Homo sapiens: one gene and its partner. The protein of the gene in region 1 purifies or fractionates together with the protein of each later gene. This does not show direct contact. Each region holds a gene or a part of one and is shown in the gene's direction. Other genes may lie near its edges.

Region 1 (5,564 bases):
TTTATTTTTATGTATTTTTATTTTTTTTTATTTATTTGAGATGGAGTCTCACTCTGTTGCCCAGGCTGGAGTGCAATGGCACGATCTCGGTTCACTGCAACCCCTGCCTCCCAGGTTCAAGTGATTCTCCTGCCTCAGCCTCCCCGGTAGCTAGGATTACAGGTGCCTGCCACCATGCCCAGATAATTTTTGTATTTTTAGTATAGATGAGGTTTCACCAGGTTGGCTAGGCTGGTCTCAAACTCCTGACCTCAGGTGATCCACCCACCTCGGCCTCCCAAAGTGTTGGGATTACAGGTGTGAGCCACCGAGCCCAGCCTGTTTATTTATTTACTTATTTTATTATTATTATTTTTTGAGACAGAGTCTCACTCTGTTGCCCAGGCTAGAGTGCAGTGGCTGCAATTTCAGCTCACTGCAAGCTCTGCCTCCCGGGTTAACACCATTCTCCTGCCTCAGCCTCCGAAGTAGCTGGGACTATAGGCACCTGCCGCCACACCTGGCTAATTTTTTTGTATTTTTAGTGGAGACAGGGTTTTAACATGTTGGCCAGGATGGTCTCCATCTCCTGACTTCATGATCCACCTGCCTCGTCCTCCCAAAGTGCTGGGATTACAAGCGTGAGCCACCACGCCCGGCCTTATTTATTTTTTTGAGACAGAGTCTCGCTCTGTCACCCAGGCTGGAGTGCAATGGCGCGATCTCAGCTCACTGCAACCTCCACCTCCCAGGTTCAAACAATTCTGTCTCAGCTTCCCGAGTAGCTGGGATTACAGGTGCCCACCACCATGCCCGGCTAATTTTTGTATTTTTAGTAAAGACAGGGTTTCACCATGTTGGCCAGGCTGGTCTCAAAACTCCTGACCTCGTGATCCACCCACCTCAGCTTCCCAAAGTGCTGGGATTACAGGCGTGAGCCACCGCACCCAGCCGAGTCTTCTAATGTGAAGTAGAGATATCTGAGGGACCTGAAACTTGTACAACTTGTGGAGACTTTGGGAAAACAAAGAGGGAACCAGGTACAGGGCATCTAGGGCCTTGGACAGGGCCGTGCAAATAAAGGATTCTGAAGTTGAGGTGTCATTCGCTTCCCAGAAAACCCACCTCTGAATGAGTAACAAGATAGACAGAAAATGTATAAACGCACATCTTCATTTCTGTGTCAGACTTTCTGATGGATATGCATGCGTGCTGTCTCATTGTTGCAAAAATGAGTCTTTTAAGCCTATGAATAGGGAACTGAGCTGAGAGCTGTTCTTTATTCATCACCTTCCTTTGTGGCTGTAATCAGCTTCCGTAAAGAATCTATGCAAGCAGGCCGGTCGCAGTGGCTCACACCTGTAATCCCAGCACTTTGGGAGGCCACGGTGGGCAGATCACCTGAGGTTGGGAGTTTGAGACCAGCCTGACCAACATGAAGAAACCCTGTCTCTACTAAAAATACAAAATTAGCGGAGGATGGTGGTGCATGCCTGTAATGTCAGCTACTCGGGAGGTTGAGGCAGGAGAATTTCATGAACCTGGGAGGCGGAGGTTGTGGTGAGCCAAGATCGCGCCATTGCATTCCCGCCTGGGCAACAAGAGCGAACTCCGTCTCAGAGAAAAAAAAAAAGAATCTATGCAAGCAAAAAAGTCATGAGGTTTTCAGGTAAAATTTCAAGGACAATGCAGTCACTCAACTTTTCCCCTGTGTACGAGGCAGAAAGCATGGTGGCTGCACGCTGAAGCTGTGAAACTTCTCAAGGAAATAGCTGTGGTAAACAATACAGGAGCGAGCTGCCGCCCGCTTGAAATGACCTGCAGGGCTGTGGCTTGTGGGCTTTGAGAACGTTCTGTAGTCTTCCCTTGAAAGCGTGTGTGGTGATGACAGTCACATTCACACGCACTCATGCTACCGCAGATCTCTGCATTTCCACTCTGGTGACGTTTCCCCCGTACCAGGGAGGGCTGAACATTTATTTCCTTTGATCTGATGACTGACTGCTCAGAGACAATAGATGATTGGATGAAAGAAATAGGGGCCCCTAAGAATAAACAATGTGTCCCTTTCCCATCCTCCTCATCTCTTTTCTTCATTGGTTTTACTTTTCTTGTACTTTTCCCCTTTCACCAGATTTAGAAGCCAAAGTCAAGATTTGCTGTTAGGCTGAGGAAAGCAAGCAGGCATTGTTTCAAACTCCTAGTGCATGGCTGACTATTTCAGTCCCCTGGCGGAGCTGTCCCACACGTCTCTCCCTGGGAAGCCCTCCCTGGTCCCACCAGCCCTCTCTGCTCCTGTGTGGAGTGACTCTTGCCTTCTGATCCTTGGGTTTTGTACTCATCCCACCATGTTATGAGTTATTTGTCTGTGTGTCCATGTTCTGGCTGGGATGGGTCCTTCTTAAATGCAGAGATTGAGTCTCACTTCTTTTTAGATCCTCGATATCTGGCACGTGCTTGATACATAGAGGCCAATAAAATCAGTGTTGAACTGACACACTCAATGCCGTAACCAAACTGTGTTTGTCTGGATGCCGAAGTTCCACTGGGATACAGCATGACCAGATAAAGACCAATGGAAACACCTAGATTGAAGTTTTCCCCATGGCTGCCCGCGTCCCTCCCAATCCCAGAACAGTGGCTTAACTTCCTACTCTTGGGCCTTCCTGAAGGGGAGATGGAAGGGTAGAAGAAACCCTTTTGAGTCGGGCTTGCTTTGTTCTGGCTGTTGCTCTAGGGCTGTGCCTGGATGACTCAGTGAGTTCCCCAAACAGCCCTGTGAAGCAGGGATGGCTCCATGTCACGGAGGAGGAAGGCCAGTCTCCCAGAGATGAAGCAGCTGGCCTGAGAGCACGTGGCTGAGTCCTGGCTGGGTATGAGCCCAGACTGTCTGGCTCCAAAAGTGACACAGAGACAGGATGGCTGAGTGTCGGGGGGGCTTCTCCACATGGCTGTAGGAGAATGTTTCCTTCCAGGTGGTGCTGTGGTGTGGGATTTATTCATTTTTAATTGCCAGATAAAATCAGGCTGATCGATGGAGTGCTGTAAAACAAAGACAGGCACCATTACAAAAATGTAGCAGGGGAGTTAGGAGACTGGATCTAAGCTCCGAGCAGGTGAGGACGGTGCCTGACTCAGTGCTTGGGACATCATAGAGCATTTAAGATCTTGTTGAGCAAATGATGGAGTGACCGAATAAATGTCATCCTGGGAAAATGGACCTAGGAGATTTCCGTATTCAAGCTATGAGATTGTGAATTCCTGCGTGAGATGATTAACATACAATTTCAAAGATTCCTGTTAAATTCCAAAATGACTCAGATTTTTCTATGCTTTTTGGATTTCTGAAGACTGAGGTTTTCTGCAGTGAGGACTCACTTGCCCCCTGCCCGTCCTTACTTCCTGCTGTACTTGAATATGGGCTTCCTGCCCTAGGAAGGAAGTTTGACATCGGAGTAAATCTCCGTGTCGCAATATTCTTCAGGTTTCTCAATTCAAGCCAAACATCAAGTGCCTCCTGGCTGGGTGATGGGGGAATCGCTGAAATCTGATATTGTCCCTAGAAGGCAAACACTCAAGACAGAATGAAATCAGGGTCACCATCGAAATATACAAATTAGAAAGCAGTTAAATTTGAAGGAGCAATGGATCTTTATTGTAAATGAGGAGAAAGTTTCTGAACTGGGTAGCCTTGATCTGGCCCTTGAAGGGCTAATAGTAAGAGTGAGGCTGCTCTTACTGTTAGTACCACGACTGTCAGCCGGCATTAGCTGAGTGTACTTATGAGCTGAGCACTGTGCTCTAGAGGTCTCCACATGCATCAGCACGTTTCGTCATCATAGCACCGCCGTGAAGTGGGTGCTGCACCTGTCTACTTCGTAGATGAGGACATGAAGCCCCAGAGGGCTTAAGTAACTTGCCCATCATCAGCTCAACAGCAAGTCGGTGGCAGAGGCAGCTACTCACCCACACAGCCAGCCCCCAGCCCTGGTCTCATGACTGTCCCCATCTCTTGCCTCATTGGGCAGAAGGAAGAGTGGGGCCGATGCGTGGAAATGCAGAGCGCATGTGGTCAGGGAATGGTCTTGAATGAGGTCAGTATGGGAGTGGCGAGCATTCTGTGGGAACTGAGGATGGAGGAGTCAGGAGAACTGGATCGGGAGGTCACGACTGGGATGCCTGTGCTTTAGAATGTGTTTACGGGAAGGGAAAACCAGCGTGACTTCACTGGAGAGTGGAAGAGTGACACATTCCCACCTCAGTATTGTCACATCTGCCGTCTCTCACCCTAGAGATGCCTTCTCCTCCTTTCCAATCCTCACACAACTCCCCTCTTCTCCCAGGCCTGGCGGTGGCGTCTCAGCCAGGCAGGTGTCCTGTCCTTTCCTGTCACCTGTCAGTCTTCCTCTTCCTCGTGGTCCATTCAGCAACATCACTGCTGCTCTGGGTGGTTGCATGTGGTCGTTTGCCTGCAAGCAGGTGGGTGCAGCCAGTTCAGGACCCCTGTGACAACTATTCCTGTTACCTGCTTTGTGAGTGTTAAAAATGTCATCCTTGGCCGGGTGCGATGGCTCACGCCTGTAATCCCAGCACTTTGGGAGGCTGAGGCGGGCAGATCACGAGGTCAGGAGATCGAGACCATCCTGGCTGACACGGTGAAACCCCATCTCTACTAAAAGTACAAAAAATTAGCCGGGCATGGTGGCAGGCGCCTGTAGTCCCAGCTACTCAGGAGGCTGAGGCAGGAGAATGGCGTAAACCCGGGAGGTGGAGCTTGCAGTGAGTGGAGATTGTGCCACTGCACTCCAGCCTGGGCGACAGAGCGAGACTCTGTCTCAAAAAAAAAAAAATCATCCACCTTACTCCCTTACTCTATTGTTGTAGAAGGGCCTGAAGCACAAACCTGGTGTTGTGTGGTGATGGCGGGACAGTGTGGAGAAATATGCAGCGAATTTTAATAGATTTCACAGAATTCCTTGACTACCTCATGTTCTACTTCAAAATGGCACAAAACCAAAAGCATTCAAGAGAGAATTACATTTGTTTTATCCATTTTTAAGACTATGTAAAGTAACTCCATGTGGTTTTTCATATCTTGCTAGTGTAAGTGACCAGAATTTAAATCTGTAAAGGTTCACTTTTTCTTGCTAATGCTGTGAGGTGTTTGGAAGTTATCTCTGATCTTCCTGGTACTTACTATAGGCTCATTCAGTTTACTAATTAACTCCATCTGCCACCTTAAAAACCCTTAGTAGTGGCCGGGCACGGTGACTCATGCCTGTAATCCCAGTACTTTGGGAGGCCGAGGCGGACAGATCAACTGAGGTCAGGAGTTCAAGACCAGTCTGGCCAACATGGTGAAACCCTTTCTCTACTAAAAATACAAAAATTAGCCGTGTGTGATGGCGCGTGCCTGTAATCCCAGCTACTCAGGAGGCTGAGTCAAGAGAATCGCTGGAACCTGGGAGGTAGAGGTTGTAGTGAGGCGAGATTGCACCATTGCACTCCAGCCTGGGTGGCAGAGCGAGACTCTGGCTCAAAAAAAAAAAAAAAAAAAAAGAGAGAAAAAGAAAAAAGAAAAAAAG
Region 2 (3,500 bases), on another chromosome or scaffold:
GTAATTTTAGTAGAGACAGGGTTTTGCCATATTGGCCAGGCTGGTCTCGAACCCCTGACCTCATGTGATCCACCCACCTCAGCCTCCCAAAGTGCTGGCTTTACAGGCGTGAGCCACCACATGCGGTATAATTTTTCTTTGTTAAGCTTGTGATTCTACTAAGGGTATCGTCCTTGCAACAAAAGAGTTGTTTCCTCCCTAATCCCACCTTTGTCTACCCCCTTTTAAACTGTCATTGACCCTTGAACTGCAGGTTCACTTACACATGGATATTTTTGTTTAAAGAGATGGGGACTCGCAGTGTTGCCCAGGCTGGTCTCAAACTCCAGGGGTCAAGTGATTCTTCCTTCTCAGCCTCCCAAGAAGCTGGGATTACAGGTGTGTGCCACCACACCCAGCTCTATAAACAGGTTTTTAAAAACAAATCTTTTGGAAAAAATGTTAGAGACTTGCAACAACTTGAAAAACTCACAGACAAGCCACATAACCTAGAAATATTGGGCGGGGGGGAAATTAAGAAAAAGTTAAGTATATTATGAATGTCTAAAGTATATGTAGATACTAGTCTATTTTATTACTACCATAAAACATACACAGATCTATTATTAAAAGTTTAAATTTATTAACACTCAAACACACAGAGCCCATACAAGGCACCTTTTGCATCAAGAGAAATGTAACAGAGATGCAGTATTAAATCATAATTGCATAAAAATAACTAATACATACTGTACTACTGTGATAATTTTGTAGCCACCTCCTGTTGCTATTTTGGTGAGCTCGTATGTTTCCAAGTGTCTGCTTAAAACACCATGTGATGTGGATCATCTCCCCGTGAACAGTTTGTGTCTCCAGTAAATCCCATATTGCAATCAAAAGAGGTCTTTTGTGGTTCTTGCGTGTTTTCATCGTGTCTAGTGCAATACCATAAACCTTGAATAACACCATCAGACCTATACAAAGTGCCACTAGTGATGCCAGAAGCAATCCTGAGAAACAGAAAAGTCATGACATTACAAGAAAAAATTGAATTGCTTAATATGTACTGTAGAATGAGGTCTGCAGCTGTGGTTGCCCGTTATTTCAAGATAAATTAATCCAGCATAAGGACCATTTTAAATAAAAGAAAATTTGTGAAGCCATCACTGCAGCCACAGCAGGAGGTGTGAAACCTTGCACTTTTTACAGAATACCTTTTTATCTCATGTTGAAAATGCAGCTCTTATGTGGGTACAGGATTGCTATAAGAAAGGCATACTTGTAGGCTGGGCGCGGTGGCTCACGCCTGTAATCCCAGCACTTTGGGAGGCCAAGGCGGGCAGATCACGAGGTCAGGAGATCGAGACCATCCTGGCTAACACGTTGAAACCCCGTCTCTACTGAAAATACAAAAAATTAGCCAGGCGTGGTGGCGGGCGCCTGTAGTCCCAGCCACTCGGGAGGCTGAGGCAGGAGAATGGTGTGAACCCGGGAGGCAGAGCTTGCAGTGAGCTGAGATCACACCACTGCACTCCAGCCTGGGCGACAGAGCGACTCTGTCTCAAAAAAAAAAACAAAAAAAAAGGGCATACTTGTAGACTATGATATTCAAGAAAAAGTGAAGTTATTATATGACAACTTAAAGCAAAACGGAAGAGAAGCTAGAGGAGTTAATGCCAGCAAAGAATGGTTTGATAATTTTAGAAAGAGGCTTGGCCTAAAAATGGCAGGCTAACAGGAGAAGCAGCTTCTGCTGACTAAGACACAGCAGACAAGTTCCTGGGCACCGCTGAACAAGTCTTTAATGCAGTTAAAAGTGTCCTATTCTCGGGGTGGCAGGGAGGGGGGCAGGCCACAAAGGACATGAGTGTTAGGAAAAGAAGAAAGCACAGGGAATTAAGGCAGGAAGGGATAGGCTAACTACTGTTCTGTGCAAATGCAATTGGGTTTATGATCAGGACTGACTGCCCTTACGTATAAAGTTGCTAACCCCCAAGACCTGAAGGGAAAAGTCTTTTGAAGCTGCCAGTTTTTTGATCATTCAACAAGAAGACCTGAACACTGAGAATCCTTTTTCTGGATTGGTTCCATCAATACTTTGTCCCTGAAATCAGGAAATACCTTGCCATTATGGGACAGCCCTTTAAAGTTCTTTTGATGTTGGACAGTGCCCCTGGCCACCCAGAACCCCATGAGTTTAACACCGAAAACATTGAAGTGGTCTACTTGCCCCCGAACACAGTCTCTAATTCAGCATCTAGATCAGGGGATCATGAGGACCTTTAAGGTTAATAACACACGGTACTCTAACCTCAATAGAACATCATGAAAATCTGGAGGAATTACACCGCTGAAGATGCCATCGTTATAGAAAAAGCCATGAAAGCCATCAAGCACAAAACAGTAACTTCCTGCTGGAGAAAACTGTGTACCGATGTTGAGCATGATTTCACAGGATTTGTAGCAGAGCCAGTCAAGGAATTTATGAAAGAGACTGTGGATAAGACAAGAGCTAATAGACATCAACCAGAGGAATCAACAGAAGATGATTTAATGAAGATGCCGGTGCTTCCAAACCAGCGTTGGACGATAAGGAAGAAGGCAAAGAAGTAGTGCCAGAAAACAAATTGACTGTAGACAATCTGGCAGAAGGGTTCTGATTATTCAAGACTGCTTTAGACTTACTGTACAACATGGACCATTGTGTGATACAGGCACTGAAACTGAAGCAAATGATGAAAGAAGGATTGGTTTTGTATAGAAATATTTTTAAAGAAATGAAAAAGCAAAAAAGAAATTACAATGTTTTTCCGTAAAGTTAAACTGAGTGTGCCTGCCTCCCCTTCCACCTTCTCTACCTCTTCTGCCTCTGCCTTCCCTGAGACAGCAAGACCAACCCCCTCCTCTTTCTCCTCCTCAGCCTACTCAATTTGAAGACATTGAGGATGAAGACCTTTATGATGATCCACTTCCACTTAATGAATAGTAAATATATTTTTCTTCCTTATGATTTTCTTAATAACATTTTCTTTTCTCTAACTTTATGGTAAGAATACAGTATAGAATACATATATAAAATATGTTAATCGACTGTTACTGATAATACTTCTGGTTAGCATCAGGCTGTTACTAATTAAGTGTTTGGGGAGTAAAAGTTATACATGGTATACCCTTACCCCCATTGTTCAAGGGTCAACTGTATGTTGTTTTAAATCAGCATATTTTATAACTTTCCTAGTTTTTTTTTTTCTTATAGCTACAGGAAATGAAGTAACCGCAGCCATTTGGCAGTTTTGTTGCTGTTGTTTTTCTTATTGTTGTTGTTGCTTTTTTTTTTTTTTTTTTTTTTTTTTTTGAGACAGGTTCTTGCTTTGTTGCCCTGGCTGGAGTGCAGTGGCAGTGATAATAGTTCACTCCAGCCTTGAGCTCTTGGGCTCAAGTGCTCCTCCTGCCTCAGCTTCTTAAAGTGTTGGGATTACAGGCATGAGCCCCCGTGCTCAGCCTATTGTTGTTTTTGAATA

What was found.
Region 2: the proteins of SYTL3 (region 1) and RAB10 purify together in Homo sapiens (affinity purification with western blotting, with the first as the bait; one study listed by BioGRID). This does not show direct contact.

What each region holds. Positions count from the first base shown.
Region 1 is NC_000006.12:158,651,909-158,657,472, forward strand, and holds part of SYTL3 (synaptotagmin-like protein 3), read left to right. Parts: intron 1-5,564. UniProt on the Homo sapiens protein: May act as Rab effector protein and play a role in vesicle trafficking. Binds phospholipids in the presence of calcium ions.
Region 2 is NC_000002.12:26,121,084-26,124,583, forward strand, and holds part of RAB10 (ras-related protein Rab-10), read left to right. Parts: intron 1-3,500. UniProt on the Homo sapiens protein: The small GTPases Rab are key regulators of intracellular membrane trafficking, from the formation of transport vesicles to their fusion with membranes.